Regions from separate parts of the Homo sapiens genome. Here all the other regions are reported to be linked to region 4. The links are microRNA targets in miRTarBase. Many come from high-throughput screens and were not tested one by one. Region 4 holds a microRNA gene; each other region holds the end of a gene's coding sequence.
The links. The annotated mature microRNA hsa-miR-3149 reads UUUGUAUGGAUAUGUGUGUGUAU and lies in region 4 at 4,531-4,553, opposite strand. An mRNA with a match to its seed (bases 2 to 7 or 8) in the 3' UTR can be bound and repressed. Matches are read on the target gene's strand: a 7mer-m8 pairs with bases 2 to 8, a 7mer-A1 pairs with bases 2 to 7 and ends in A, and an 8mer does both.

Region 1 (8,158 bases), not on the chromosome of region 4:
CACAAAGAGTGACCACACTGAGCAAGCACTTCATATGTTGGTCTGTTATTATTATTACTGAAGAGTTGCACTTTTCAAAGTGGATGTGACTTCACTTTTTTTTTTAAATTTATGTTCTGGGATACATGTGCAGAATGTGCAGTTTTGTTGAGCAGACTCATTCGTGATGTCTATAGTGTTAAGAACAGACTTCCCAAAGTCTGCTGGTGTAGTAAATATTTTTTCTTTAGAAAATACATCTCTCACTGACAGAGTCTTTAGGCTCTAATCTCTAGTCTTTAGTCTCAGACTAGATTGTAAACATGGTGTGGGGAATAGAGCATTGATGCAGGAGGCCAAAGGCCTGAACTTTAGTCCCAGCTCAGCGATTAACCAGCTGTGACCTTGGGACAGTCAATTAACCTCATCAGGCTCAGCTTCATTTCTCCTCAGGAGAAGGCAAAACTGTCCACCTCCAACTCTTCTTCCAAAATCCCATACCATAATTGATGTACTTGAGAAGAAGTTCGCTTTAACACAAACATCAGGCAAAGCCCAACTATTTAATCATCCCATATAATTAAAAGCTGCTATTAGAAGGATTTAGCTATTTTTTACAGAGGATAGAATTGGCAAGTGCATATTTAGGTTTTGAGAAATAAAATATTCCAAGCTTTTGTAAAATACAAGTTTCTTCATACACCCTAAGGAAAAAGCATTTACTGGCCTTTCATAAAATAGGTAAATTATCCTTTCTCTGAGCCTCTGCTTTGTAGAATAATGCTCCAGCAATCGTCATAACCCCATATCCACCCATATTGTCCTTTCAAGGTCACACTTTCAGGCACTGCCATGAGAATGGAGAGGAGAGGGAAGAAGCTACTTCTTCCTCTGTCTATGGGCCATAGACACCTGTCCCTGCTTCCCCACACTCAGTCATTCAGCCCTTGGGCCAGTATCAGTATACGCACTTTATCTTCATAACAGTGAACTAAAATAAGAAATAAAAATAGCAGGAAAAGATCTCTGTTGGGCACTGATGTAAATGACAGCTAATGTGTTCCTGCAATCCTCATTTCCTTTTTGTTTTGCCTCTGGAGACTCTTTTTCTCCATCTGCCAGGTGGGAACATCATCTTCAGGATGATGGAAAAGGCAGAAGTAATGTGGGTGACTGATAATTTAACAACAGGCAGATTGCAAGGATGACCCAGTATATTAAAAACCAGCTCACCAAGCATAAGGGTATGTGACTTACTTTACAGAAGACACTTTGCTTTGTAAGCTCTTGTACAGAGGGGGAGATTTTATTTTCACTTCTTTAAGGAAGAGCTTCTTTCCTTGTTTTCTCCCAAGACTAGGAATGCTGGATCTGGGCGGGGTAGGTATTGCAGCAGTGTGCAGAGTCTCAGACCATGGTGATGGAAGAGTTGATGTCCTCAGCACATAAAGAGGAGGATTCCTCACAATAGGAATCTCAACGGACTGCCAGCAATTGCATAGCCAGCTGGTCAGGCTCAGGTTGAGGTACTTGGCTTAACAAGCAAAGTCACTTAATAATGTTAGAAAAGAACCTTGGGTTAAACCCTGGAAAAGTGAGCTTGCAGGTCTGGGTCTGTTTCCTTATTCAGCAATGGGCAGTAAGAACATAGAGTGATGTCACTCAGCACATGCCTGGCCCATAACTGTCTTCTTTGATGCCTGTTTTTTTCTGTTTGTAGGGCCAAGGAGATCTGTTGAAGAATGCCAAGAATGAAGCTATAGAAAACATGAAGCAGATCCAGCTGGCATGCCTGTCCTGTGGACTGAGTAAAGCCCCCAGCAGCAGTGCTGAGGCCAAGAGCAAGCGCAGCCTGGAAGCCATAGAGGAGAAGGAAAGTAGTGAGGAGAATGGGAAGCTGTGACTCTGGGCATTATCGACACGTTCACCCATCTTATCAAGGACTCTGGTTTCTCATTCTTGTTTTCTTTCTTTAAATGTTTTATAAGTTCACAAAATGGTGCCCTATATGGGGTATTGGACATAGATATTTTCACAATGTCAGTATTTCAGTGTAGTTAATTTATCTAAATTAAAGCCTTTAGTATCAGTGTTTTAAATTCTGAGACATGTGTCAACACCCCTGTGTGGATGCCTGTGGAAGAGTGTGTGTGTGTGTGTGTGTGTGTGTGTGTGGCAGAGAGAGAGAAAGAGAGAGAGAGAGAGAAATTCTGTTAAAATCTATTCTGTGTTGCATTATTCATTTAGTGAGTTATTCCTTGATCATTTTGGGACAATTGTTTTAATCTGAAATTCTAAAGAGCACTTACTGTAACCTGTTGCTGTGTTTAATTTGACTTCTCTGCCTTTGACATTTAATTTAGTGATCTTAGCATAGCTTATTATTGAAGGAAGCCAAATTTATCAAAGCATAGATGTTTTGGTAGATTAAATATAGATTAGAAAAATTCCTAAGAATCAGAGTAGAAATAAAAGTGAATGAAAGATTAAACAGATGATGAGAATTTCTAAAAAGATTAGCAAGGTCATTTCTTCAGTCAGAAAACTTTAAAAAATATTTATTAAATAAAATCAATTTTTAGGAAGTTTTCTGTAGTCATTTACTAAACATATGATTTCACTAGAAAAGCTGATCATAAGTGAATTTATACCTACCTGTGTGGTACTCTGAAACACACTGAAAGCTCTGTTGCAATTAGGATTTTGATGTGACAATAATATTGTTGTATAATTTCGAGATTTGTAGGAAGGTCTCATTCTTCCAAGCTGAGAGTCTAGCACTCATTTTCTATAACAGATATGGCAGCTTAGAGGTGTTGGCTTTGTTTGGATGTAATTTAGGGTACTAAATTTAAATTTAAAGATATTGTTCAAACAATATCATATCATCACATTGAGCTGATATAAATTCTGTGGGTCCGATAATATCTTTGTGATAATTTAAGAGCTAACCAGTTACCACACATCTATGATATAACCCTAACACACACAGAAAAGCATACATGCAAAAAGAAATGACTAATTAGGGTACATTTATAATTGCATCTAGGTAATTTTTACCCTAATGTCTTCATAAAGTACTTGAGTGTAATGTTTGTTACCTCCAACAGAACTAAATGTTCTATGGTTATGAAAGAATATATTTATTTAAAGCATTGCTTTTATTTTGAAAAGCTTCTTAATTAATTTGATTAACAAATATGCTAATTTGGGGAAACCTAGAGAAGATAATTGTTGAAATTTTGCAAATATAAACATCTCCTATAGCTTCTGTGTTATTTCTGACTTCTTAACACTATTATGTTTATGTTGCACATTACTGAAAGAGTAAAGATATGAAAAAAACACTTATTGTTTTCTTTTATTGTGAATTGAAAAAGCAAAGCTAATGAAAATGGGTTACTACATCAAAAATATCTTAAAGAGTTTGCTATTTCCATGGACCAGATATGATGAAATTATTCCCTGGGTTTAAAACTGGGCACTCGAGGAGGAGGTACCTGAAGTCATTTGAAGGCAAGTTTCCAATGATGCTACAATGGCCTGAAAAAATTTCTTTACCCTCTGTTATATTTAACTTGCTGGTAGGAGGAATAGTGGAATGCAGGTGTTAAGCCCTTTGTGGTGAAAAAGAGGTTCTATAGACAGAAACAAAACCCACCTTACATCAGCTGATTGGTTGATTTTACTAGTGTACCTCTTCATCTACTTGAATTCTATTTGGTAAATCCATGTCTTTACTGGATATACAGTTAGGTGGGAAGAGGAGATAAAGGATGACAAACTCTCAAACAATATTTATACATTTATTTACTCCAGGGTCAAATCCAATCCTTGGAAGTAGCTTCTCTAGTTTATTTTATTTGTCCCAGAGCTCTACTCACACTTAGGACCCACCCAAAAATTCTCAAAAACGTAATATGGATTCTGCCTCATCTGATGCTATTTCTGGCAGTGGGTTGTCAGCCATACTCTGCTTCATTCCACTGGGTGTCCTTGCTAGATGGGGAGTGAGATGTGGAGCAGGGAGGAGCTTTGGATTCTGGGAGTGGAGGTGGCAAGGGAAAAGTCTCCTAGTCTCCTGTGATGTTCCTGCCTCCAGATAGAATAGCAAAAACAAACAATTTTTTTTTGTGTATTATGCCTCCATGACATTGTTACATTCTATGAGGAGCATCTGTCTCCTTTCTAGACTTGAACTGTGGTAGAAAAAGCCCCCTTCTCTCTTCTATCTACTTAGATTTGGTGATGCTAGGAATGTAGTGTTTTAGATATTAATTCTATTTTTATTTATTCATTTTTACATCACCAATAGGATCTGAGGTGGAGATGGCGGGTATTATCACTGGCATTTTACAGGTGAGAAAGCCCAAAGCCACTGAGGTAATTAATGGAATAATTGATTTTGAACTTGGGTCTGTCTGATTTCATGTGCAAGATTATATACTTAGTGATTTTGATTTTAAGTTTATTCTTAACATTTTAAACCAGACTATTAACTCTTACCTTTATAACCACAGATACAAAGAACTGTATCATTTATTTTCTGAATATAAAATATTAATGGTCAATATAAAAATACAAAAATAGAGAACTATATACAACAGAAAAGCAAAATTACCCACTAATAACATTTTGATTTATATCCCTTTAGACACTGTTTAGAGTTTATACATATATGTAAATATGCTTGTATTTTAACAAAATTGAGATATTATATAAACTGTTTGTAGCAGGGTGTTTAAAATTTTAACAATATGTTATGGATATCTTTCTGTGTCAATAAATGTGTATTTACATTAGAGTTCCAAGCATTTGAACTGAATCTAGTCCAAAAATGATGTGTTTTATTTGGCCATTGAACATTTTTTAAAAAAATCTTTAAGCAATAGACAGCTTTTGAAATTCAGAAAATGTTACGTACAATTCAATGTCCTGCATGTTTTAAAATACTGGATAATCTAACAACACAGAACACCTCCCACTCCCCACCTCACAACCACCACACATATACTTTCTTGCTTGGCATCAGTTAATTGAAACTGCCCTCTCCAAAAGGGGCATATGCTGTCCAATTTTCTAGAGAGCCTTTTCATTCATTTATGTTACATCTGGACCTTAAGGACATGATAGGTGGTGAAACTTGATGAAAATTATCATTTATTGAGAGGCCAAAATGAGAGAATTGCTTGAGGCTGGGAATTGAGACTAGCCTGGGAAACATAGTAAGACCTTGTCTTTAAAAAATAAAAAAAAATTAATGGTCATTTATAATAATTATACAGTATCTTATTATATGGCTTACCAGAATATATTTAACCAATCTCCTATTGCTAGATTTTACTCACCTAATTTCTTGTTATATAAACATTCCAATAATAAAATCCATTTTTGCAAAGTTGTTCAACTTTTTCTTTGGGATACATTTCTAGAAGTGGAATTGTTGGGTCAAAGGATACAGAGATTTTTTGTTTTGTTTCATTTTTGTTTTTTAGGGATTTTGAGATACATTGCCAAATAGTCTCAGGAAAACTTGTTCAATTTAAAACCCCACCAGGAGTTTATGAGAGTGCTTAAATCTTTGCTAATGATAAATTTAATTTTTCTTATTTTCATCTTTGCCAATCTTCTAAGTTACAAAAATCTTATTTCTCTTTATCTTTAATCTCTAATGAGATTGGATGCATATTAATATGTTCATTGACTCTAAATAATCTAATTAAAAGTAAAAACTTTTGTACTCCAAAGGATACTACCAAGAAAGTGAAAATAGAACCCACAGAACAGGTTTGCAGGTCATATATCTGATAGAGACTGGCAACCAAAATTTATAAAGAACTATTACAACTTAATAAAAAGAAAACCAAATTTTTAAAAACTGGTCAAAGGATTGGAATAGACTTTTCTTCCAAGAAAATATGCAAACAGGAAATAAGCACATAGAAACGTGCTGAAGATCGTTAACCACTAAGATCACATAAATCATAGCCACAATTAGATATGACTTCACACCAAATAGGTTGGCTATAATAAAAAAGACAGATAATAACAAGTGTTAGTGAGGATGTGGAGAAATTGGAACCATCCTACCCTGCTGGTGGAAATGTAAAATATTTCAGCTGCTTTGGAAAACAGCTTGGCACTTCCTCAAAAGGTTAAAAAAACATGGAGTTACCATATGACCCAGCAATTCTACTCTTAGATTTCTACCCAAGAGAAATGAAAATATATGTCCACACAAAAGCTTGTACACAAATGTTTGTGGCAGCATTTTTTATAATAGTCAAAAGTAGAAACAATCCAAATGTCTATCAACTCATGAAAGGATAAATAAAAATTACATATTCATACATTGGATTGTTCAACAATAAAAGAAATGAAGTACTGATACATGCTACAAGAGTATACCTTGAAAGCATTATTCTAAGTGAAGGAAATCAGGCACAAAGGCCACATGTTGTACCGTTCCATTTTTATAAAATATCCAGAATAGGCAAATCAGTAGAGATAGAAAGTAGACTAATGGTTGCCAGTGGCTGTGGGGGTCTGGGAGTGACTGCTAATGGGTATGAGTTTTCTTATTGGTGTGATGAAAATGTTCTGGAATTAGAAATAATGATGATGTTTGTTTACATAATTTGTGAATGTACTAAAAGCTATTTAATTGTATATTTTAAAGAGTGAATTTTATGGTATGTAAATTATCTCAGTAAAAGGGTTATAAAAGGAGAAATAAAAAGAATTTAAACAATGAACAGGGTATTAGAGAATAGTGAAATAGCTTCAAGAATCTAATATGTATGAAACTGGAGAGAAGAGCAGGAAAGAAAAATAATTTGAAGAAATAATGGCTAAAAATTTCTCATTTGTAATGAAAACTATAACCTCCAGATCCAAGTGTCTCAAAAATTCCAAGGACAAGAAACATGAGAAAAACAAGTTAGTCTGTTTTCTGCTGCTGTAATAGAATGCCACAGATTGTGTAATTTACAAAGAAAAGAAGTTTATTTGGTTTACAGTTCTGGAGGCTGAGAAGTCCAAGAGCATGGCTTTGGCATCTGGTGAGTGTAATTCCATGCCAGAAGGGCAAAAGGTGGAAGGTCAAGAGAGCCCATATGAAGGAGGTTTTGCTATTATAACAAAGCCACCTCCTCTACAACTACCCCACTCCGATGACAACACCTTTCATGAGGGTGGAGCTCTCATGACCCAATTACCTCTTACTTGGCCCCACTTCCCAACACTCTGGCATAGGGAGTCCAATTAAGTTTCCAACACATGAGTTTTGGTGACACCTTCAAACCATTGCAACAACCAAGGCATATTGTAGCCAAATAGTTCAAAAGTAGTGATAATGAGATAATCTTAAAAGCAGCCAGTAAAAAAAGACATGTACAGAGAAAATAAGAAAGACAGCGTATGTCTTATTGTAAACTGTGCAGATGAGATGCCGGTGGAGCAACTTCTTTAAAGTATTGAAAACAAAGCAAAAACTGTAATCCTGGAATTCTATACCCAGTAAAAATGAATTCTAGAATTCTATACCTATTCAAAAATGAAGGTTATACAAAAAAATTTTCAAAAGCTCAATTCATCACCAGTAGACTTACATTATAAGAAATGTTAAAGGAAATCCTTCAGGCTGAAGGAAAATGATGCCAGGTCAAAATATGGATGTACAAAAACAGATGAAGAGAGAGAGCTAGAAATAGTAACTGCAGGGATAAATATAGCTGGCCCTTTGTATCTAGGGGTTCTGCATCTGTGGATTCAACCAACAATGGATTAAAAATACTTAAAAACTGATAAAAATAACAATACAAAATTAAATACAAATAAAAATACAGTACAATTATTTATATAGCATTTACATTTAATTGGGTATTATGAGTAATCTAGGGATAATTTAAGGTATACAGGAAGATGCATAAAGATTATATGCAAACACTATGTTATTTTATGAAAAAGACTTGAACATCTATGGATTTTGGTATTTGCAAGGGGTGAATGGGGTATTTGCAGGCAGTGAATGAGGAGGCCTGGAACCAATCTTCTGCTGATATTGAGGCACTACTGAAAAAGGTATATTACTTAAATCTCTTATTGTATTGTAAACTGTATAAGTAATGAAATTAAAAGGCAGAAATTGTCAGACTGAATAAAATGAAAAGACCAAACA
Region 2 (8,158 bases), not on the chromosome of region 4:
GATGCCATTTCTCACAATATTCGAACAAATAAACTTGAGCAGATGCCCAGTACTAGTGCCCCACAGTAGAAATATTCTCATAGAGATGACAGCTTCTGCTGAGTTCAGTGGCTTGTACCTGTAGTCCCAGCTACTCCAAAGGCTGTGGCAAGAGGATCACTTGAACCCAGGAGTTCAAGGCTGCGGAGATTCAAGGCTGCTGTGATCACACCATCATGCTCCAGGCTGGGCAACAGAGTGAGACCCTGTCTCTTAAAAGAGAGATGGCGACCGGGCACGGTGGTTCATGCCTGTAATCCCAGCACTTTGGGAGGCCGAGGTGGGCTGATCACCTGAGGTCAGGAGTTCGAGACCAGACTGGCCAACATGGTGAAAACCTGTCTCTACTAAAAATACAAAAAAATTAGCTGGGCATGGTGGCAGGCGCCTGTAATCCCAGCTACTTGGGAGGCTGAGGCAGGAGAATCCTTGAACCTGGGTGGAGGCTGCAGTGAGCGGAGATTTCGCCGTTGCACTCCGTCCTGGGCAAGAAGAGCAAAGTTCCGTCTCAAAAAAAAAAAAAGAGATGGCAACTTCTGTCTTGATCTCTACTGTAGGAGAAAAACATGTGGAACCCTTCTTTCTGCTTTATCTTGATATGTCTCAGGAACCCTGTGCCTAATGAAGTTTATTAATAAAGTCAGGCTCAGAATAGAGACGTTTTCCAGTGCCAGTGCCATACTTTTTGTCATGGTGCCCCCACTTTGGTGAGCAGGGGAGCATAAAATTCATGGGATAGGGACTTTGTTTAATGCCATAGAATCCAGCACTTAAAATAATGTCTGGCACCTTCATAGGCACTCAGTATTTGTTGAATGAGTGTGAGTGAGTGAAAGGGAGGAAATGACAAAGTTCTGGCTGCGAAGCAAAGCTCATTGGTGTCTTGAGACTCAAAGAATAGACTTTTCTAATATAATCCTTTGATTATTATTTCCTGTCTCAAGATAAACTGACTGTTGGCAAGAGGAAACGAAATGAAGATGATGAGGTTCCAGTGGGGGTGGAGATGGCAGAGAATACTGACAATCCACTAAGATGCCCAGTCCGACTTTATGAGTTTTACCTGTCAAAATGGTAATCTTTCTCTGAACTGAATGTAGTGCACTCAGAAGGCAGTTAACATATTTTGGATTTCAGATGCTTGAACATCAGAAAAGTAGCTTGCCCGTGGCTTTAGACAAGGATTTACCATGAATTTTTTCCCCATTGTCATATCTATGTGGATTTTGAACCACAAAACAAATTACCTTGTCTTCATAATTATTTTATGAAAATGTCTTCAAAAGCAAGAATCACTGCTATTGTTTGATCTTTACAACTGTTGTACAACCTTTATGTGATACCTAATCTGTAGTTATTTTGTTATTTGTATAGAAAAGAAATTTTGTTTTGCTAAAGCTATAATAGAAAAACAATTTTTAAGGAATTGAAATTTTCTAAGTAGTCCTTTTCTTAGAGGAACTTTATGATTTTAGAGTTGTAACACTTTTTTTTCTGAAAGAAATGTAATAGCTTCATTTGCCCTTTGATAATGTGTATTGAGTGCCCTTGGAGTTCATTCCAGGATATTGGGCACTTCCAATATGTGGTGCTTGGCCATAGTGTCACATGTGAGTTGACTTTTTTGTTGCTCTTAATAATGTTTGAAGTACTAAAGTTTATGATTTACACTTTGTCTTATATTAACTTTATACTCACTTCCAATCCATTGTGATTTCAGTTGATTCCTGGGAGGAAATATTCCTGTAAACTATTTATCTCTGTGGGTACCTTGCTTTCCCCATTGTGAGTCACAGTGGAGAAAGGTTGAGAGCCATATTAGGTTGGTGCAAAAATAATTGCAGTTTTTGCCCTTACTTTTAATTACTTTTAATGGCAAAAACCTCAGTTTACTTAAGAATAGTACATATTTCCTATACTCTCTGATTTCTAATTTTCTTTTTTCTCTTTTTTTTTTTCCCCTGTGGATAGTTCTGAAAGTGTGAAGCAAAGGAATGATGTGTTTTACCTTCAACCTGAGCGCTCCTGTGTCCCGAATAGCCCCATGTGGTACTCCACATTCCCGATAGACCCTGGAACCCTGGACACCATGTTAACACGTATTCTCATGGTGAGGGAGGTACATGAAGAACTTGCCAAAGCCAAATCTGAAGACTCTGATGTTGAATTATCAGATTAAAACGGAAGTGAGGTTCTTATTTTCATACATATTGGTATGCACCAAACTGTGAATGCATCCAGCTGTTGGAAAATGATGTATAAGTCTAAGTCCTCTTGACTTGACCATAAGATCATGGAAAACAGATGACTTGTGAACCCCACAGTGTGGATGTGCAAATGAAAATTGAAGGAAAGAATATGAACTGAGAAATGTTCTTTGGCAGTGATATAGTTCTTAGACATCTTCAGAATGACTAATTTCTCCGAGTGGTGCATAATCTTATTTTGTTTGGGAGTAACAAATCGTGGAATATTTTTAAGGAAAACTGTTGTATAAAACTTTACCATAGTAACCTTAGACCTTAGAGAGGTAGCTTTGGAGTGAAACTTTGGCTGCAATAGGCTACTTTGGCAAGCCCTCCGTAAAAGTCAGAGGAGAGATCAGTACAGAGCTAAGAGTGACATCAAATGAGGACTGTGGGACCCAGATTTGAAGACCCAATAAAAATACTCAACTTTTTAAAAAAGATAGTGAAGTGGTCTTGATTGATTTTGATTTTCACTGCCAAGCCAATCATGTGAAGGACAGAAGCTTTTGCCATGGGCCCCTCACATCAGGGAAAATGACCTTCACTGCTGTTAACAGTAATGTGTCCCTTTCATTTTCTGGATCAAGCCTTCTCAGCGGTGGGTCTGGATGTGGGTAAACTAAGGTAAAGGGGATGATATTCCACAAACTAATTATGCACACAGAAAATCTGTGGAGCCTATCAGACCCCAAGTGTCTTGAAATGTTTGTAGAAACCCACTAAAATGCCCCTTCTCTGGGTGTGGGCCCTTATTGCAGCTGTCTCACAGCCTGAGCTGTGGTACAGAGAAATGGGGGTTCTCCTTTTATTTTCATTTTTTTTCCCCAATGGCAGCTTTTCTCCCGTTGTTTTACCTTCCTATTTCCCAAACAGTTCCTCTTATTTTGTCTTTTGCACCAGTTTCTGGAGGCCCTTGTCATTTCAAAAAGGATAGTCTCTTTTCTTACTCTGGCAAACCTGTGAGTGATTCCACAAAGATACAGTATTACTTAGCTATCTGAATTATGATAGAAAAGGTCCTAGTTAGGTTCCTATATAAAGCATTTGGAAGATGACCTTGTTGCCCTTGAAACTTGAAAATAGGGATTCTGGGGTGAGGATACAAAGACATTGTCTTGCATATCCATAAGCAGGTCTTAGAGCATTATTCCAAACTCTAGCTGTTTCAGTAGTTCTATGAGGATTGCAAGTCATAGGTGTGTGTGGCATATCAGTCCATCTCCCTCATCTCCATTCTCAGTTTCTTCCCCACAAAATTTGGAATCAAAGCTTTTATGACGTTTGCCAATTGCAGAACTTCTTCAGCTAAGGTTAATTTGACGCTATGATAAAACTGAGAGATGTCAAAAAGCCTCTTAGAAATTTTAATCTTGAAAGACTTTTCAGGGTATCTCATTTTTTAGGTGGGGGTGGCAGGTGTATTTCTTTTTTAACAAATAAAAGGCATTTAAGTAAAACTAAAATGAAAAAAGTAGGCCTTCTGACATTGTGTACTTGGTGGTTCTGTCCCTCTGCCTGTAACAAATCTCATTTTTGTTACCAAGAACTGTATGAAAGAAGTAAATCCACCCCGATTCTGTATGATTAATTCCATCTGTGTTTGTCATTTCTGACTGGAAAACTTCTTACTCCATACCTTGTTCGATATGGAGGACAAATAATTGGATTGTCTGATAAGTCTGCCAATAAACTATCCAGAAATAGCAAGTGTAATAGTCCCCACTATACGAATTTTATGGTTTGTATAAACACTAACATTTTCCCCTTCTGTAGTTGTATGAAAAAACAAATATTGTTAGCATAGTAGATAAATTGTTATGAAATACCAGAAAAAAAAATCTGTATCTTTTACTGAGAACACCCAATACCCAGATAAATGACTGTATCAGGATTTCATTTGCATGTTAGTCCACAGAGTTGCCCAGAACCCTAAATTTATTCATAAGAGAAAATATTGATTAATTATTGGTCATTCCTCATAAGTGTAGCTGTTGATGTGTGCGTCTGATTATTGCTTTTTTAATTTTATGAAAATTGTGTAAAATTACATTTTTTTTCCAGGGGAGAAAAAAACATCAAACAAAAACATCTAAATCATCCTTTTTGTTCTTTTTCAGTTTTTAACCACTTTTAGGTTTTCCCCTTACAGAAACCACAGAAATATTCCCTTAGAATAAAATAGTATATTTGTATTTGATGGGTGAGTTCTTCTTCTTTACGTCTTAAAAGAATTTGAAATCTCTTTTTCTGATTGACCTTATTGGTATGACCCAGCAATTAGTAAAATTACAAAGAAAGAGAGCAGTTTCCGAGAAAGAAATTTTTTTTATGTAGTCCAGTCAACATATTTTTTCATTGCAAGTTCTTTTATTTCCTTTTTTCCATCAAAAGACTTGTTCCCATTTTTAGCTAATTTACTGACTATATTCAAAGTCCCAACAGGTAGAAATATCAGAGATCATTTATACATATCATTTCAGGCAAACTTTTTTGAGATTTACAAAGCCTACATCAGTTCAACTTTAATGAAATTGTAAGACTAGAATAAAGGATATGTTCATTCTTAAGTATAAATACATGTTTAAAACAGGAATGTAAGACTAAATAGCATTTTCCTTCGACTTCAGAGTTGTCTTGGTATTATGCAGCTGTACTTTCAAATTCCGTATCGACTTTCTACCTACCTGCCTTGTGGCAATCCTAAATTTATAAAACAGGTTTTCCCAAAAGATCTAATGTAAAATGAATTTCTATTAATGAATTCAGAATTTAATTTTCCAAAGAAGTCTCCTAGGGTATTGAGTTGAAGTTTTAGGAAAGAAGCAATCATACCCTGAACTCCTCTAGACTAGCACTTGTCTGTTACACTGTGCTATCATCATTGAAGAGAATAGTGATTGAGAGGCAATGCTATGTAGTGGAGAGATCATAGGCGTCGAAGCCTAGTGTTTCTACTTACTGGTTGTATAACTTTAGGTAAATTACTTAACCTCAGGCCAGGCACGGTGGCTCACACTTGTAATCCCAGCACTTTGGGAGGTCGAGGCAGGAGGATCATGAGGTCAGGAGATCGAGACCATCCTAGCTAACATGGTGAAACCCTGTCTCTACTAAAAATACAAAAGTTAGCCGGGCGTGGTGGCGGGCGCCTGTAGTCCCAGCTACTCGGGAGGCTGAGGCAGGAGAATGGCGTGAACCCGGGAGGCGGAGCTTACAGTGAGCCGAGATCGTGCCACTGCACTCCAGCCTGGGCAACAGAGCGAGACTCCGTCTCAAAAAAATAAATAAAAAAATAAGTAAATAAAAATTAACCTCTCTGTGCCTCAGTTTTGTTATCTATAAAGTGGGTATAACTCCCTTATTAAGTTGTGCCTGGCACATGGTAGGCTTTCAAATGTCAGATATTTTTTATTACATGCAAATTTCCTGGCCTGTACTAACACATTAAATAAATGTTAATTCCCACACTACAGTCTGAATTTTTACTAAGTATAGCACTTTGGCTTCTGCAAAACATAATACTCTATTTATATAACCAATTCTACATATTTGAATCAAACAAAATTACAAATTCTTCACTTGTGCTTATGTGCATATCAATAGTAATCAACATCACAAGAATCCATTGATATTTTCACTATATTGAAAAATGGGGCTGGGCACGATGGCTCGTGCCTGTGATCCCAGCACTTCGGGAGGCCAAGATGGACAGATCACTTGAGGTCAGGAGCTCGAGACCAGCCTGGCCAACATGGTGAAACCCCATCTCTACTAAAAGTACAAAAATTAGCTGGGCGTGGTGGCAGGTGCCTATAATCCCAGCTGCTTCAGAGGCTGATGCAGGAAAATCACCTGAACCTGGGAGGCGGAGGTTGCAGTGAGCCGAGATCAGGCCACTACACTGTCCAGCCAGGGCAACAGAGTAAGACTGTCTCAAAAAAAAAGAAAAAAGAAAGAAATGGGCATGTATATCAGTATATATAGGAACAGCATATGATAGAGTTTATTAGTTTTTTTCTTTATATTTCTTTTTGTTTGTTTTGAGACACAGTCTCACTGTTGCTCAGGCTGGAGTGCAGCGGTGCGATCTTGGCTCACTACAACTTCCGCCTCCTGGGTTCTAGTGATTCTTCTGCCTCAGCCTCCTAAGTAGCTGGGATTACAGGTGTATGCCACCACACCTGGCTAATTTTTGTATTTTTAGTAGAGACGGGGTTTTGCCATGTTGGCCAGGCTGTTCTCAAACTCCTGACCTCAAGTGATCTGCCCACCTCAGCCTCCCAAGTGTTGGGATTACAGGTGTGAACCACCACGCCTGGCTAATATTTCTTTTTTTCTTTGAGATGGAGTCTCGCTCTGTTGCCTAGGCTGGAGTGCAGTGGCTCGATCTTGGTTCACTGCAACCTCTGCCTCCTGGGTTCAAGTGATTCTCCTGCCTCAGCCTCCTGAGTAGCTGGGACTACAGGTGCACGCCACCATGCCTGGCTAATTTTTGTATTTGATGGGGTTTCACTATGTTGGGCAGGCTGGTCTCGAACTCCTGACCTCAGGTGATCTGCTGCCTGCCTTGGCCTCCCAAAGTGCTGGGATTACAGGCATGAGCCACTACATCTGGCCTATTTATATTTCTTTGCATATGAATGCCAGGTCATAAATTTATTTTTTAATTGGGAGAAAAACCTTAAATCTATGAAACTTCTTTTACTTGGTAGGTTATATATGTCATCAGTTTAGGAACAAGACAACGGTACAACAGCAATCTCCCCACGCTTCACTTCATTAACAGAACTGCTCCTTCCCCAAAAGTTTTAGCTAGGCAGTGGCTCCCTTGGTAAAAAAGTGTATTTTCCAGGCTAACTTGTAGTTAGGAGTGACCATGGGACGAAGTTTTGACCAATGGCATGGAAGCAGATGTGAGTTTACATCTCCCAGGCTACACTCCTAAAAGGAAAATGCATGCTCCTCTCTTGTCTTCCCTTTTTCCTCTGATCTGGAGCATGAACGTGGTCATGGCAAACCAGTTTTGTCCATGTGGGAAAGGGCAGCATACCAGAAGTACATTAACCTCATGGACAGAGCCACCTGTCTCTCCTGGTCTGCCTACTAGCTCAGACCTTCACATAAGAGAGGAACTTTCATCTTATTTAAAGCCTTTTTTTTTCCTCTTCATTAAAGTAGCCAAACCAGTATCCTAACGAATACACCGGTAATGCCCACTGTCACATTACCACTAAACGGAACTGGAACTTCTCATCACAACAAAAAAGGTTATCAATATTGCAAGGTGAGAAAACACATTTGTTGTTGTTGTGTTTTGTTTTTGTTTTTTTGTTTTGTTTTGAGATGGAGTTTCGCTCTTGTTGCCCAGGCTGGAGTGCAGCGGCGCGATCTCCGCTCACTGCAACCTCCATCTCTCAGGTTCAAGCGATTCTCCTGCCTCAGCCTTTCAAGTAGCTGGGACTACAGGCATGTGCCACCACGCCTGGCTAATTTTGTATGTTTAGTAGAGGCGGGTTTAACCATGTCGGCCAGGCTGGTCTCAAACTCCTGACCTCAGGTAATCCTCCTGCCTCAGCCTCCCAAAGTGCTGGGATTACAGGCGCGAGCCACCACACCCCGCCAACAAACTCTTAAATAAGTTTGGCCGGCCACGGTGGCTCACACCTGTAATCCCAGCACATTGGGAGACCGAGGCAGGCGGATCACGAGGTCAAGAGTTTGAGACCAGCCTGACCAACATGGTGAAACTCCATCTTAACTAAAAATACAAAAATTAGCTGGGCGTGGTGGCAGGCGCCTGTAGTCCCAGCTACTCGGGGAGGCTGAGGCAGGAGAATGGTGTGAACCCAGGAGGTGGAGCTTGCAGTGAG
Region 3 (8,158 bases), not on the chromosome of region 4:
CCCTAGAAGAATTACTGGCTGGGTGCAGTGGCTCATGCCTATAATCCCAGCACTTTGGGAAGCCAAGATGGGAGGACTGATTGAGCCCAGGAGTCTGAGACCAGCCTGGGCAACATAGTGAGATCCTATATCTACCAAATTTTTTTTTTTTTTTAATTTTTGAGGCAGAGTCTCACTCTTTTGCTCAGGCTGCAGTGCAGGGGCACAATATTGGCTCACTGCAGCCTCTGCCTCCCAGGTTCAAGTGATTCTCATGCCTCACCCTCCCGAGTAGCTGGGATTACAGGTGCGCACCACCAGACCCAGCTAGTTTTTGTGTTTTTAGTAGAGACGGGGTTTTACCATGTTGTCCAGGCTGATCCCAAACTCCAGACCTCAAGTGATCCACCAGCCTTGCCCTCCCAAAGTGCTGGGATTAGAGGTGTGAGCCACCATGCCTAGCCTCTACCAAAAAATTTTAAAAGCCAAGTATGGTGGTGTGCACCTGTATTCCCAACTAGTCAGGAGGCTTAGGTGGGAGGATTTCTTGTGCCCTGGGGTCAAGGCTGCAGTGAGCTACGATCACATCACTACCCTTGAGCCTGGACAACAGAGTGCGACCCTGTCTCTAAAAAAACAAAAACCTGCTTTGGTCACTTGAACTTTGCCCAAGGTCAGCTGTGTTTTTGCTTTTCGTTGTGTATATCTTCCACGTGGGTTAGCTGTATTTAAGAGACTGATTTTGTACAAAGGATGAGAAGGTTGTGGCTGTGAGTTAGGCTGTGGCATGTTACTACCTCCCACTTAGGTGTTGTTTTTGAGGTAACCCAAGTCCCTGTTAGCTTTTCACACAGCACTATTGATAATGGTCATGGAAAGACTTTTAATTTGGTTCTTGCTGCCATCGTTTCCTTACCAGAATGGCACCAATTTCTCCTAAGACGTATTCATGTCTATCACATTTGTCTTTGCCAGGAACTTTCAGGACCAGCTTCGAATGGAGGGATCAGCCAGACAAACACCTATGACGCCCAGTATGAGAGGTGATTGACTGACGTGACTCTGGAATAAACCAGGGTGAACACAGGCCTGGACACAGGCGAGCAGACGCGTGGCACTGTGCATTTGGTCCTCAGGCAGATGTACGGTGCCACAAACTGGCAGGAAAGACTAGAAAAAGTAGGCCAGGAGCGGTGGCTCACGCCTATAATCCCAGCATTTTGGGAGGCCGAGGCAGGCGGATCACGAGGTCAGAAGATTGAGACCATCCTGGCTAACACGGTGAAACCCTGTCTCTCCTAAAAAAAATACAAAAAATTAGCCGGGCATGGTGCCAGGCACCTGTAGTCTCAGCTACTCGGGAGGCTGAGGCAGGAGAATGGCAAACCCAGGAGGCGGAGCTTGCAGTGAGCCGAGATCGCGCCACTGCACTCCAGCCTGGGCGATAGAGCGAGACTCCGTCTCAAAAAAAAAAAAGACTAAAGTGTTGGCTCTCTTGCTTCCTCTTGTGGCAGTTACTTATAATAACTCTAGACTCTTGATAGCAAGTTTCCAGGAATGGGTGATAGAATTGCTGACTGGTTCACAGGTCAGTGCCATTGGGGGAAACGTACTGAGTCAGTTTTTTCTGATTGGTTTGATCTTCTATGAATGATGTATGATCACAGGGCCTAGATGTCCTCAGTGGGAAGTTTATATAATTGTAAAGATAAGGAAGTTTGGAGGAACAGCTCCAGAGATTACGGGAAAAACCGCGAGGATTCATTTTACGAAGACTTATACTTAAGGTGTCTATGAGAGCCTGTTGATGAAGAACCTGAGTTTTGCTTTAAAACAGATCCAAGTTCAATTCCCAGCCCTATCACTTACTGGTTGGGTGGTCTTGGGCAAGATTGTGGGGTTTCTCACCCGTATACAACACCTACACCGCCAGTTATGTGGGATTAATTGGCATCATGCATATTAAATGCCTGGCACAGTGTGCCCTTGGTAAGCGGTTAAGAAATGTAGTTACTGCTGCCACCATGATGATGATAGTAGTGACTCTCCCTTTTTATCTGTTTTCCAACCCAGGGCCATCCAGGAGAGCCTCCTCACCAGCACAGAAGGCCTGTGCCCCAGCGCCCTGAGCGAGACAAGCCGTTTTGATAATGACTTGCAGCTAGCCATGGAGCTCTCTGCCAAAGAGCTGGAGGAATGGGAGCTCCGGCTCCAGGAGGAAGAGGCTGAGCTCCAGCAAGTCTTACAGCTGTCACTCACTGACAAATAGACCTTTCAGCCTGTGAGCCTCTGCACAAAGCAGAGGCTGTGGGCTGTCACAGATGCTGTGTCAACCAGGGCCCTAGGGCTAAGGGCCTGCACCTTGCGTGCATGCAGCAGGCAACAACTGCCCCTTCTTTATGCAGAGGTGCAGAACCAGGGACTCCTGGGCCCATCCAGGCTGCTCCCTGGGGTGGAGAAGGGACCAGGGATTGCAGGCCCCATCTCCAGGCTAAGGGGAGGAGAGCATCATCACTTTCCATTAGCTGTATTGGCTTGCAGGTCACATTTTTACTACCAGCTTTAGACAAAACCCCAATCCCCGCAGGTTTGTAGATAAATTTTTATCAAGGAGTGATAACAAGACAAGTTATTGCAGAGTCAGGGTGCTTTTATATATAAGAGCAGCAGCCGCCTTTGTAAAGTGTGATCTATGAGAATTGGAGACACTTCTTTACTGTTCACCAAAGAAATGGGTAATCTGTGCTGATCTCCTTATTTTTACCTTTTTACAGGGTTTCTAGGACATTGTCATTATTCTTCCTCCATCTATCTGATTCCATTCCTTCCACACCCAGCTAAAGTTAGAGGAGATACATATAGAATCTATTTTAGATTATTGTTAACTATTTGCATCAAATTAAGATACACAAATGGCCATGGATGTTGCCTTAGCCTTAAACATTACTAATAGTTTCACATCACCTCACTGCACGCATCGAAGGATCTGATTTGAATTTGTAAAGGCAATTCTTTTGAGAGCAGGATTCTCCAGGCTAAATCAAAGGCAGCTAATCCTGTCCCTGAAGGAGCAGCTAGGGGAACCTGAGGCTTGTTCTTGAAGTGGGCAAGCTGGCCAAAATATTGGAACACACAGAACCAAACCAGGTGTGTTCTACACCTGCATGAGTGAAGGATTTCCACGTAGACACCTAGGAAGAGCCCGCATGCCCTAGACTCACTCCAGAGGAAGGATTGATTTGCAACCAGAAAGGGAGCTGAAAACCACGGAGCTCCATGGCTCTTCATTCAAAAGGGAAAATAATGATTCCACGTTGCTTTTTAGAGTTCAAATCAACATCTTTCTGGATAAATCTATTTTTTAACAATCTTTTTATTATTTGTAAAAGATATAAAAACAACTCCCATCAGTAGCAATACAAGGTTATACATTTTAACCAGATTTTCTCAGGCCTTTTTTGGATACCTTTAGTAGTTAACTCTCTTTTGTCAAACCCTCTTGTATATAACCATCGCACAACATACAGAACCCTGGGGAATACAGCCAAGGGCACTGCTCACTGTGGCCCGTGTATTCATTCCCACAGGCTGCACTGAAATAACCTGGTAAACAACACCCTCCTCCATTTTGCGTCTATTTCTTCTATTGTGCTTCTTTGGGGATAGGAAGAGAAACATAACTACTGTTCCAGGTAACGTCTGTATCATACAGTTAGTGTTGCCAGTGAAACGTTCCCAGATACAAAGAATTGTGCTTTTAATTCCATTTCACAATCTGTTTTGTTTTTTTTTTTTGTCATTGTCTGACCAAAATTCCTTCTGCACATGAGGCCAGTATAGGCAACGTCACATTTGTTTGTTTCAAATATGCAGTGTGGTATTTTGTTTACTTTGCATTTACCGTGAGCAAAGATACTTCTTGGAATGGCTGCAGTGAGGCCGTGTCATTGGCTCACAAAAGTGACTCATAGGTAATTTCTGTGTTTGCATTCCACTGCTCTGCTCCCTAAGGTCCTTGACTTTCTCCCCAGGAATTCACTTAAAAAGGGACTGAGCATTGTGTCAACCTGTTGCAGTGTTTTTCATATATGTGTTCACTCTAAAAATGCAAATAAAGACTGCTTCCTTAGAGGGTGCTCATACAAAATTCCAGTCTTTGAGTCTTTTTCCTTTTCAGTTTTTTCTAGTCACTGGATGTACCCACACTTCCTGTTACGTATGTCAGTAGAACATTAGAATGCCTCACTTCGCTCAGTTCATCACTGCAAAGGTGGCATGCTCCTCCCAGCCTTCCTGCCCAGGTTAACAAGCCCCATGCTGCTTGTTTCAAATGGCAACTAAAAGCAAGCCAGTGTTGGGCTGTTCTGACACCTCTGTGGTCCTCCTGGAGGGGAACTGGCTCTTGTGGGGTAAGGGAAGCCCAGCCAACATCAAAGCTCTGCATCAATGCTATCCCTTGAAGCCAACTGCTTTGTGAGGCTGTTCCTAGAAGTCCAGATGATAAGGCTTCCAAACTCTTCCTATATCTAAATAAGCGGGTATTAAAAACAACAAAGGCAGTGGCCAGTAGAAATGTATGGGTTCCAGAAATGAGGCTGTATTTCTGGGAAGATGTAAAGGAGCTGCTTTGCTTTTAGGGGAAAGTAGATATCAATACTTTGAAGCCACAAGGACACTATGAAGAAAACCATTACTCTTTCAGGTCAAGAGGTGCAATGACTATGGATTATTTAAAAACTGAAAAGCTAAGCTTGAGTGGCCCAATATCAGCAGGAAGTGGTTTTTTTTTTTTGTTTGTTTGTTTTCCTGAGACGGAGTTTTGCTCTTGTTGCCCAGGCTGGAGTGCAATGGCGCGATCTTGGCTCACTGCAACCTCTGCCTCCCGGGTTCAAACGATTCTCCTGCCTCAGCCTCCCGAGTAGCTGGGATTACAGGCGTGTGCCACCATGCCTGGCTTATTTTTGTATTTTTAGTAGAGACGGGGTTTCACCATGTTGGCCAGGCTGGTCTCGAACTCCTGACCTCAGGTGATCCACCCGCCTCGGCCTCCCAAAGTGCTGAGACTACAGGCATGAGCCACCGCACTCGGCCAGAAACTTTAATTGAGCAACTTCTGCACGTTAGACACTGCTAGGAACTAAGTTCCTAAGGCACTCTGCTCTATAAACAAGCTTGTCACACTACATAAACGTGGCATGTCAAGGGATTGAAAGTCTGCTCTAAATAATGACAGGAAAGGGAAACTGCCATAACTGCCAGCTTGGTCGCAGTCTCCTGCTGACCACAAATGACATCAAGGAAGATGAACTGGATGTGGAGATTTCAAGTGATTCAGTGGTACAGTGAGTGATGAAGTTCAAAGTACCACCTAGGCCTCTGTTTAGAAATATGTGTAGGTTTAAGCCTGAGGTCCAGGTGGAAAAAAATACAACATGCTGATATGACTCCACAGTCACTAAATCATAGGCAGCACTAGGAGACTTTTATCTCAACTTTAGGCCAGGCGCAGTGGCTCACGCCTGTAATCCCAGCACTTTGGGAGGCCAAGGCAGGTGGATCACCTGAGGTCAGGAGTTTGAGACCAGCCTGGCCAACATGGTGAAACCCCATCTCTACTAAAAATACAAAAAAATTAGCCAGGCATGGTGGCTCATGCCTGTAATCCTGGCTACTCTGGAGGCTGAGGCAGGAGAATCGCTTGAACCCGGGAGGTGGAGGTTGCAGTGAGCCAACAATGCACCATTGCACTCTAGCCTGGGCAACAGGAACCAAACTCCGTCTCAAAAAAAGAAATTTCACTTCACAGAGCTTCTTTAAGTGATTAGATCAAATTCAGACACACACCTGCATTTCAAACACTTGGGAAATAACTGGTGGAGTAAAACAATATATAGGATTTTACTTTAGTTTTAATTGACGTTTTGCTCAAAAGCAAAGAACTGAACATTTCAATGGTTCAATGTTACAAGATTACAAACAAAATCCTTACACAGTTACAGTATCCTACTTCGGTTACTTCACATTAAATGCAGGTTGTTAAAATCAGTGCTGTGCTTGAACACAAGATAAGCATTTCAATTTAATAACAAAATTAAATCTAGCACCTTGAAATAAATATTGACGACAGCTTTATAAGTATGAAAGTATCATTTCAATAGGAGGAAAAAATCCAGTTCACCAACAGTGGAAACTAATAGCAGCATTTTCAAAGCTGAGATGAAATTTGTGTAAACACACACTGGCCCGCACAGTGGACATGCACTTCTGTTGGCTGGGCCCTCCCCACCCAGGGATGAACAGAGTGCCCACTGAGCCTTTTACATTCCAAATCTGGAAAGCTGCCTCAAGTTTCAGACCGTGGGCTAGAAAGACTCAAATGCAGGGCAAGGGAGATCAATGTGTTTAAGCAGGATGGGGTCCTTTTTGTAACAGGCCAACCTAGTAACATTTCCAGTCCAACTTCAGAGCATTCCAGGCCAAAGGTGCATATAGTAACAGGTCTACCTGATGTGACCCTGACTTCAGGGGGAGCACCTGAGTGCAGGGCAGGATGCAGGTGAGGAACGAGGGCCCAAGATCCCCACAGCTGACACCACTTTGCAACCAGCGCATTCTAGGCTAACTCAGGTGAGATTAAAAAAAAAAATCTGTGATTCTTAACCCACTGTAACCAAATGGTTCTTAAATAGGGAATGTCTGCATGGTAAGTCTCCTTCTTAATAACATTTTCAAGCATTAATGATGAGTTCTTTACAGTGTGGTTCTTACAGGCACTCACAAGGTTACCATGTTTTCTTTCTCATGAACACTCCATCTTTACACTGACCTTTGGAGCTTTCAGGTCTTACTTTTAACAAGTACAGTCAGAAACACTGAGAAGCGGACTCAGGGGCCAATTATTTGCGCTACAGTGTTAGGAAAAAATAATGTCTAGTACATGTTTTCTTCTAATTCATTTAGCATTTACCAACTGTCCAGACCAAAGGTCATTTCCAAGTAGGAAAGTTTTGGTTCCAACTTCTCCACTGGCCTGTGTGCAACACAACTTATCCTATTCCCAAATACTCATTGAAGAACTTGTCTGGCTGTCACCGACGCCGAATGGGCTTGTAGACACAAAATGCCATAAGGATGACAGTCACCAGCAGGATGCTGAAAATGGTTCCCATCAACACTGCAAAGGGAAAACAGGTTACTTCCTAATGGCAGCTCCAGGTTAGGCAATTCATCCACTCACTGCCAATGATTTATCAAATGCCACTTGCTGCCAGGCACTATGTCAAGTGCTGTGCAAACAGCTGTAAACAGATCCTCTCTCCAGTTGTCTCTAAATATAGTTGGGGGAGAAACAAACAGATGAGAGCATTTCACATAGCTTGATATACCGTGAAAAAAAAAAACAGTAACATGCTAGGGATGGAGACAGGGTGGGCAGCAAGAAGGGGGGACAGTCAGGAAGCATCCGAGGAGGAGACTCACAAACTAAGACAGGCCGAGTGTGGTGGCTCGTGTCTGTAATCTCAGCACTTTGGGAGGCCTAGGTGGGTGGATCACTTGAGGTCAGGAGTTCGAGACTAGCCTGGCCAACATGGTGAAACCCCGTCTCTACTAAAAATACAAAAATTGGCCAGGTGTGGTGGCATCCGCCAGCTACTCAGGAGGCTACTCCTGAGCTACTCAGCTACTCAGGAGGCTGAGGCAGGAGAATCGCTTGAACCCGAGAGGCGGAGGTTACAGTGAGCCGAGATTGCGCCACTAAGCGACAGAATGAAACTCCACCTCAAAAAAAAAAACAACAACAAAAAACTGAGACCTTACGAGTGAGGCTCTGCAGGGAGCATGCTGCAGGCCCACAGATCAGCTAAGGAAGGGCCTTGAGGCCAGTATAAGCCCAATACACTCAGTGAACAGAAGGGAGGCAACCAGGCAAGGAGTGCAGGAAGAGAGGCAGGAAATCAGGCCAGAAAGGAAGGCTGGGGCTGGTCTGTGCAAGGCCTTGGAGACCATGAAGAAAACACGGATTTTAAGTTTAAAGAGAAGCCACTAGGGGGCTGTAGGCAAAGGAATGACATCATCTGATTTAGTCGGAAAAAAAAAAAAAGATTCCTCTGGCTTTTGTGTGGAGAATTGTTTGACTATAGGGGAGCAAGAGAGCAGGATGCCCAACTATGCCTTTAAA
Region 4 (8,158 bases):
GTGACAACTTTGTCTCAATAAGCGGAAGGTTCCTTCTTGAGATAAACTAAATCGCATAGATAAAAAGCATGACGAGTGGACCAAATGGAAGTACCTTCATGAAAATTATAAAAAGACACCTTCTTCTATGGGTGGATACAGTCCCAGTGTTGGGGTCCAACACTTGGCACATAGAGTGCAGCCTGAATTTCAGCTCCAATGCCGCTCCTTGACCCAGCTTCCATTGCAGCATGGGTGTATGGTTGGTGCTAGAGGTGACTGACTGGACATGAGTAAAGGAAGACAATCCTGCTGTGTTTTACTTCAAATATATAAAAAACTCTCTTGAGGAAGGAATATTCTACTTTTTCTAATGGCTTTACAGGACAGAATTATAACCAGTAGACAACTATTTTGAAATGACAGGTAAACACTTTAAGTAAATAAAACATCTCAAAAGCATGACTGATTTTTTCTTGGGAGACTGTGAATTCAGTTACTGAAAGTAATAAAATGGAGTCTGAATACCCAATTAATAAAGGTTTTATAGAGGTATTCTTTAAAAAAGTACTTTCAAGCCTGTGATTTTATGATTACTTACCAAATAAGCACTGTGGCCAGTAAATATATGATCACAGATAAGAGCTGACTATGGAACGGAAGAAGAAGAGCTTCATTTGGTTTTTGTAAAAGGAATAATCCTTGAACTACAAAGATTCAGGAAAAGAGTAGAAGAACCTCAGGAAACACTTAATTTTTTATATTTGCATATCAGTATAATGTTTACTACAGTTGACTGTGATTTTACATAGGTATCAGATAGCTTTAGCCTAAAAATCCTACTTGATAGATTATTTTAGTATGAAGAGTTGTGGATGAAATCCTGATTAGTCTTTGGCTAGATTATGTGCCTGCATTCCCATATTTTCTAACGTAGATAATGAAATCGCTAGTGTTGTTTTGTGCTTCGAACTCAATTGCTTTGATTGGATGTACTTTAGAGCTAGGACATCATTTCTATTTCAAAACGGAGGTCTTCAGTCAGGACCTGACTTTGTTAATAAGTGTACAAGTATAAAGTATCTATATTTCACTGAAACAAGAAAGTAAGAATAATAAACATCAAATACCTTGTTTTCACTGAATGTTAACTTGGCCAACTAATTTAAAGAAAATAAACTTTTTTCTGTAAACAATGTAAGTTAATAGAACAGTTTTTTTCCCCCAAATACTTCAGCAATAGAGAATGCTGAAAGAAAACAGAAAAATGGAAAGAGCCCACTAAGAAGGACAAAGAGGAACCTGAGCTAGCAGGTTAGTTACATAGCTAATGTTATTGCTTCTGTCTTTTCAAAAGATAAATAGAAGGTCAGGAAGATAAAGATCCTGTTTCCTGGTTCAAGAGGTTGCTGAGCATCTTGGAACATACTCTACCTTCCAAACCATAGCCCTCACTGAAGATTAGAAACAGTTTCTGACAGATCAGAATATCTAAGAGTTGGTGTTTTTAGCCAAGTAGAACATTGAGTCTAGCAAATATGTATACAAATACCTATTTCTGGTGATAGCAGTTTAATCAGAATTGTAAGAAATAGAGGAAAATAAACACTGGAAAAATCGGTGGTACAATGAACTCAGTGAAACTCAAACACCTTACTATTTGAAAAGAAGGACTCACGTTTAATTTGTAGGAAGTCCATTCATCAATATTCATTTATAGAATGTTACCATGTGACAGGCACTTAAGATAAAAACCGTAGCAGCAACAGCAATAACAACAAACACAATACCCTTTTCTTCATTGTTTTTTTTTTTTTATTTCCTTGTTGGCTTTATCTAACAAGCTAACTAAAAAAAACGACATTTCAATTCAAGTAACATTTTTTAAATGACTAGAAATGTACATCTTTATGGTACACCAACCGTACTTGAATTTAGGATATTATTATTGTTACTCAGTTGAAAGTATTGTATGTCAACATGCAGAAGTTATCTTCCTTAATTTTCAGTCTCAGTCAAAACACCTCAAGTGACTCAACTTAAGCTTTCCTAGGATTTATTCCATAAATACCTTTAACATATACATATGTAAACCCTAGGAGTGCATATCACTTTTTAATATACATATATGTTTAATTCATTGTCCCCATTTCTGAATGCTTTACTATGATAGATTCTGAGAAGTAGAAATCTTGGGTCAAAAGCTGTGAGTTGTTTAAGGCTCTTCATTCATAATGGAAAACTGCTTTCCCCAAGTATATCATTACTGGGCTTTCAACAACAATAAATATTCATATTCATATAGTACATTTTTATTCTAATTTGTTCTAATCACCATTTCTCTTTCATTGCTGGCCAAGTAGAACATATTTTTATAAGTCCATTAGCCATTTTCATTTCTTTTTTTCTGAGGATTGTTTTTTCTTGTATTTGGGCTCATTATTTTTTAGTAGATAGGTGGGAATTAAGTACATTAACTCTTTACCTTTTATATAATTTGAAAATATTTTTCTCATTTTGTTGCTTGCTTTTACATTTTTATGTTTTTTTTTAATTTTTGTTTTTGAATTTTTGTTTCTGTTTTGTTTTGTTTTTGAGGCAGGGTCTTGCTCAAATTCTCAGGTTCAAGCAATCTTCCTGCCTCAGCCTCCCAAGTAGCTTGGACTATAAGCATTCACCACCATACCCAGCTAATTATTTTTATTTTTTTGTAGAGACATGGTCTGACTATGTTATCCAGGCAGGCCTGGAACTCCTGGCCTCAAGCATTCCTATCACCTTGGTCTCCCCAAATGCTGTGATTATAGTCCTGAGCCACCAGCCTGATCCTTTTTCCTTTTATAAAATAATTATATATCTATTGTAGAAGATTTGGAGAATACATACAATCACATAGAACGGAATAAAAATTACCTATATCTCCCATAGATGGCTATTGCCAACATTTTTACTACAAATTTATCTAGTCTTTTGTAATAGACTTATATAACTATAAAAATATACATATTCTGTATTTAGGAAAACAGGATGATATTGTACATTCTGTTTATAACCAACTTTTACTTTTTACTAAATAATAGATAAGAAAAACTACATGTTTTTACAGCATGGTTTATTTAGTGTATCTCCTTTGAGAGATTTTTGGTTGTTGGCAATTTTCACCATAGTAAATAGAGATGCACATCCTGGTAAATAAATCCCTCTATTAGTAGTATTAAATTATAGAACTATAATTTCTTGTGAAAAAGGAGGCATTTTCTAAAGCTGCTGATGCATATAACCAATCTGCTCTCCAAAAAAATTTACACTGATACAGTAGTTTAAGAAGATGCTAGCTTCTCTATACTCTCAACAATACTTGGTATTTTTATTAAAAAATCACCACCAGAAAGTAGCTTTGCCAATATGTAAGTTAAAATTAGCATCTCCAGTGTTTTCCCTTTCCCTTGATATTCATTCTTCTAGTCATTCAACAAGTAATTATTGAGTATGACCATGGATGAGGCACAATGTTGAGTCCTGAGAAAACAATAATAACTCTTCCCTTTCTGAATCACTATTCTCCCTTTCTTGAGTCAAAGAAAGTCTGGACAAGGGCTTTTCCTCTCAAGTATCCAAGTATCTCAAGAATATACTATATCTCTCCTATTTCTCAATTATATCTACTCAGGACATTCTAGTTGGTTTCTATTCTCATATCGCCCCTACTTTAAGTGGTAGTTCCATATGCATGACCTTTTTTTGAAATTTTTTTGACACAATTCTGATTTTTGTTGAAAGCAGTGTATTGCAGAGGGTATGGACAAGCCAGTTAAACAATGAGCCTCTGGTAGCAATTGTGAGATAAAATTGAAGGGCGATTGGGTGTTGTAGAAAGAGGGTAGATTTTGCATCAGAAAGACCTTAGTTCTCACCCTTGCTGTGTATGTAACCTTGGGAAAATTACTTAGTTGCCTCTTTTGTAAAGAGTGGCTTATAACACATCTCAGAATAAAAAGTTCTAAAAGGGTACCAGCCACCTGGTAGAATGATGAATTTTTGGTTCATTTCGGCCAAAATTTGTTTGCTACTTGGTCTGTCCTCTTTCAACAGCCTTTTCTCTAGTTTTGTTTCCCTTTTTCTTCCAAGGCATCCTTAGCCTTTCCTAGTGGCCCTGGAAAAATCTCAATTTGGGATTACCAGCCTGGGCTTTCTTTCCTAAAGGATGTCTTATGTTATGACTCCATCTTCACCTTGTTCTTGCATAAAATTCTTTTCTCACGGGACCCTGTTTTCCATAGTGATTAACTAGTTTTCAGGGAAACTGTGAGTTTCTTAAGGGCAGAAAACATGTCCTGTATTTACTGTCTTTGCATCCTTGATGCTTACCTAGCAGTGTCTGGCAGACTGTGAGTCCTTGATGATTATCTGTTGAATGAATGACTACTCATCTAAACTTGGATGTTAGGGGCTCAGGTGTTAAATCTCAAGAACTTATATACTCTTAAGATATTCTTAAATGTTATTGTTTTCAGACATGAGGAAATCTGTCGGTTCTGTGTATACACACACATACACACACATATCCATACAAACATATATATATGTATGTGTGTGGATGACATGTGTGTGTACATGTATGTATATCCCATTTTGATGTCCTTTTTAAATTTCTTTACCTGAAGATATCCTACATACCTCAAGACTAAACCGAAATATCTTTGTCCCTGGAAGGCCTCTACAGGTCTCTGATGAAATAAATCACTCATTTCTCAATGCTCTCCAAGCACTTTGTCTATTTACTCCCATTGCCTTTTCCTTTGGTAGACTCTAATCTTTGGATTCTTAATGCCCAACATACTGAAAAAAAAATATTGAAAAAAGTGTTCACTAATCATTTGGCTGAATGAGGAGGGAGGCTAGGCTTAATCATTCATGTGGTCTTAAGTTTTAGCTTGTATAAAGGAGAAGCCAGTTTACAATGAACTTAGAGGGCCAGATGCAGTGGCTCACACTTATAGTCCCAGCACTTTGGGAGGCCGAGGCGGATTGCTTAAGGCCAGGAGTTCAAGACCAGCCTCTGTAACATGGCAAGACCCCCGCCTCTAAAAAAAATAATAAAAATAAAATGAACATGAATTTAGAGGATAGTAAGTAAAAAGAGGTAATGTGTAAAAAATAATTAGTGGTTAGGGAGATGAGGAAATAGAATAGATTTTGATTGGTGGTTCTATAGTTTACGGATGTATGTGTCCGAGCCACCTTTCTCCCACTCCAGCTGCCTCTAATCTCTGACTGGTGCTGGCAGGAAATCCACAACAGAAGGCAGCACATTGCATGGAATTTACGTTATAGATAATGCTCTGCCCTTATAGACATACTACTTTCAATTGATGATTAAATGCCAGGAACCATGGCAGAGCTAAGGGCAGATATTTATACCTCTAAAACACAAGCGGAGACCTCTGCATAGGAGTGGCCCTGCAGAGACCAAGTCCATGGGCATTACTTACTTAACTCATTAAAGGAAATACGTGGGTAACCAGAGCTGCAATGGAAGGCAGAGGAGTAAATAAGGACCAGCTTCAGAACCAAACTGGTTATCTTGAAAATCTATCACTTCACCCTTGCAATAGCTCATAACTCTGTATTGTAAGTAAATTCAATTATCATGCTTTTGATTCAACCTTTCAATCCAAGGACGATGTTCTTAAAAAAATTGGACTTTAATTTCATAAGCCTTCTAGGAGATGTTTAATCTTCTGAGAGAAGTCTTTTGTACTTCTGAGAAATTTTCATTTATCATATATGTCCTTAGACCATCACTGAGTCTGCAGGCTTTCCCCCACTCTTATCTCCATATTTTATACTGAATACCTATCTTCCACTTCTCAACCTTGAAACATTAGACAAAACCACACTCAAGTTATCAGTGGAAGAAATCTACCTGAGGAAAATTCTCGGGAGCTCCATTAATTGACAGATGGACACTTCCTGAATTTCCCCCAGCCCTCTGCCTGACTTCCTTACTCTGGGGTAAAAAAACAGTGAATTTAAGCACGATTGAAGAAAAAGGATTTAGGTTTGGGAAAACTTTTGTTTCTCTTAATATTTCTGCTTTGATTCCAGGGAAAAGAATGAATGTCATTGTTTCAAATACGAAGAAATCTGTTGGTTTTGAATTTGCTACCAGTTATCCACCCATGTGTGGAATCAACATATATAGGAAAGAAAAGGAGTCTGACTTCTTAATTTTAAAAAAATAAAACCAATGAGACAGCAAGTGATATTCAATCCTATTAAAGAGACTAAGCACAGACCTTTTAAAAAGTCCTTATGTTCCTGGCATTGGGATTGTGTGATATGGCTCCACAATTCAGGAGGACTGGAAATTACAGAACATCTGCAATGAAATTGGTTTTCTGTGGAAAACTGATGAATCACTTACTGCCAATGACTAGAAGGAAAAGCACTTGCTTATGCCCTTATGTAATGAATTTTTATGAGGTGAAGTTTGCTGTTTATAAAAAATACTTTACGCTGCTGTAGATGTAAAATAATAGAATTCAGAATTCAGAGCAATGCATTATTGCAAAGACAGTCACCAGCAGAATATTATCTGCTTACAAAACACCAAAACAGGGCTATTACTTTTATAATGGAATTAAAAAAAAACAAACTTCATCTACCCAGTTGGATTCTAGAAGAAAAAAGTATTTAAAGAGACATAGCTAAAATTGACAGCTCTGAAATTGCATGTATTTTCAAAGCAAAGTTATTAATTCTCTTATTGTGCTCTTGAATTCCAACTGTTTTTCTCAAAGCAAGAATGCCACAGGATATTTTAAATTAATAATGGCAATCCTAAGATACACTACAAACCTGAGGTGTGGCCTTTCCACAACATTATATACATGCATATAGAATTCTCCCTACGCTAATACCATCAGCTGCTCTGCTCAATCTTTGTGAACGGCTTGATGATCAAACTTCAAACTCTCTTGGTTTCTACAGACATTTACAGAGCATCTGTATTGTGTCAGTCGGTTTTTGGCTGTAGTGCCACAAAAATGAGAAAGATACAGTTTCTGTCCTTACTGAGCTGAAAGGCTATTTTGCTGTTTGAGAGAATCATCAAGTTGAACTGAGAAATATTCCACTAGGTCTGAGAAGGAAAACTAAGAAATAATGCTCACGATATTGGATGAGGATCCTTGCTCTTAAATTTTTTTTTTTGACCTCTATATTTAGTCTAGAACTAAGTATTTTTAAAGCAAGTAATTATAATTTCAATTAGTGAAAAAAATTGTAGTATTTTATTATTTTTGGTGACTAGAAAGGCACTCTTACAAATTGGCATGGATTTAAAATAGAGGCTGTCAGGAGAGGATGATATTTTCTGAGTGTATGGTGAGATATATTTACCAAGGAACCATTCTGAAAACCTCAAGAACAGTAAAGACTTCAGCTCCAATAATTCAGAATTGCGACTATTTATTTTATATATTTTCTTGACAAAGAGTCTTGCTCTGTTGCCCAGGATGGAGTGCATTGACGTGATCTCAGGTCACTGCAACCTCCGCCTCCCAAGTTCAAGCACTTTTCCTGCCTCCGCCTCCCAAGTAGCTGGGAAAGGTGTACACCACCACACCCAGCTAATTTTTACATTTTTTAGTAGAGACGGGGTTTTGCCATGTTGGTCAGGCTGGTCTCAAGCTCCTGACCTCAGGTGATCCACCCACCTCGGCCTCCCAGAGTGCTGGGATTACAGGCTTGAGCCATGGCGCCTGACCAACTGTGACTATTTAGATTAGGTCTCAGTTGAGATTCAAGTTTGCATTGTCTCTTATTGGCAGCCAAACCATAACAATACTCAGAAACGTCGACATTTTGTGTTGATATCTGGAAGAAATACAAAATCCTAGGTCAGACCCTGTATCTTAGATTCTTAGTTGTGGAAATATAGTGACTTTACAAGCTTAGGCAGTTGACAATATTAAATATTCACGTCAATTTTTCAGATCTGGTGTATTAGCTCTAGACTTTCCTACATACTTCTAAGTGATTAAAATGCATATATAGTATGGAGTTAGATATTTAATATGTAATTTAAGACATATGAAATAATTCAGACTTTCTACAGTTGTGATTGGCTATAAAGGCAGGTTTTATTTAATGCAAAAATAGGTACTATAGTAAT

Region 1: the mRNA of PLCL1 is a reported target of hsa-miR-3149. Seed matches in the 3' UTR shown: 7mer-A1 at 4,500-4,506 and 7mer-A1 at 4,558-4,564.
Region 2: miRTarBase lists ZMYM4 as a target of hsa-miR-3149. Seed matches in the 3' UTR shown: 7mer-A1 at 3,388-3,394.
Region 3: miRTarBase lists ANKRD13A as a target of hsa-miR-3149. Seed matches in the 3' UTR shown: 7mer-A1 at 3,719-3,725 and 8mer at 4,118-4,125.

What each region holds. Positions count from the first base shown.
Region 1 is chr2:198,145,081-198,153,238 of GRCh38, forward strand. It overlaps PLCL1 (phospholipase C like 1 (inactive)), which reads left to right. Exons shown (of 6, transcript NM_006226.4): 6 at 1,700-4,783. The coding sequence ends at 1,882. Among named protein-coding and RNA genes, the nearest start is that of LINC01923, 230 kb to the right of the region's middle.
Region 2 is chr1:35,417,460-35,425,617 of GRCh38, forward strand. ZMYM4 (zinc finger MYM-type containing 4) reads left to right here. Exons shown (of 30, transcript NM_005095.3): 29 at 984-1,113; 30 at 2,011-4,599. The coding sequence ends at 2,218. Among named protein-coding and RNA genes, the nearest start is that of ZMYM4-AS1, 55 kb to the left of the region's middle.
Region 3 is chr12:110,035,307-110,043,464 of GRCh38, forward strand. ANKRD13A (ankyrin repeat domain 13A) reads left to right here. Exons shown (of 15, transcript NM_033121.2): 14 at 955-1,022; 15 at 2,053-4,457. The coding sequence ends at 2,248. It overlaps C12orf76 (chromosome 12 open reading frame 76), which reads right to left. Exons shown (of 2, transcript NM_001389625.1): 2 at 5,871-7,153. The coding sequence ends at 7,068. Among named protein-coding and RNA genes, the nearest start is that of C12orf76, 9.1 kb to the right of the region's middle. RefSeq lists an enhancer at 7,193-7,706.
Region 4 is chr8:76,962,248-76,970,405 of GRCh38, forward strand. It overlaps MIR3149 (microRNA 3149), which reads right to left and starts at 4,603; the gene lies at 4,521-4,603.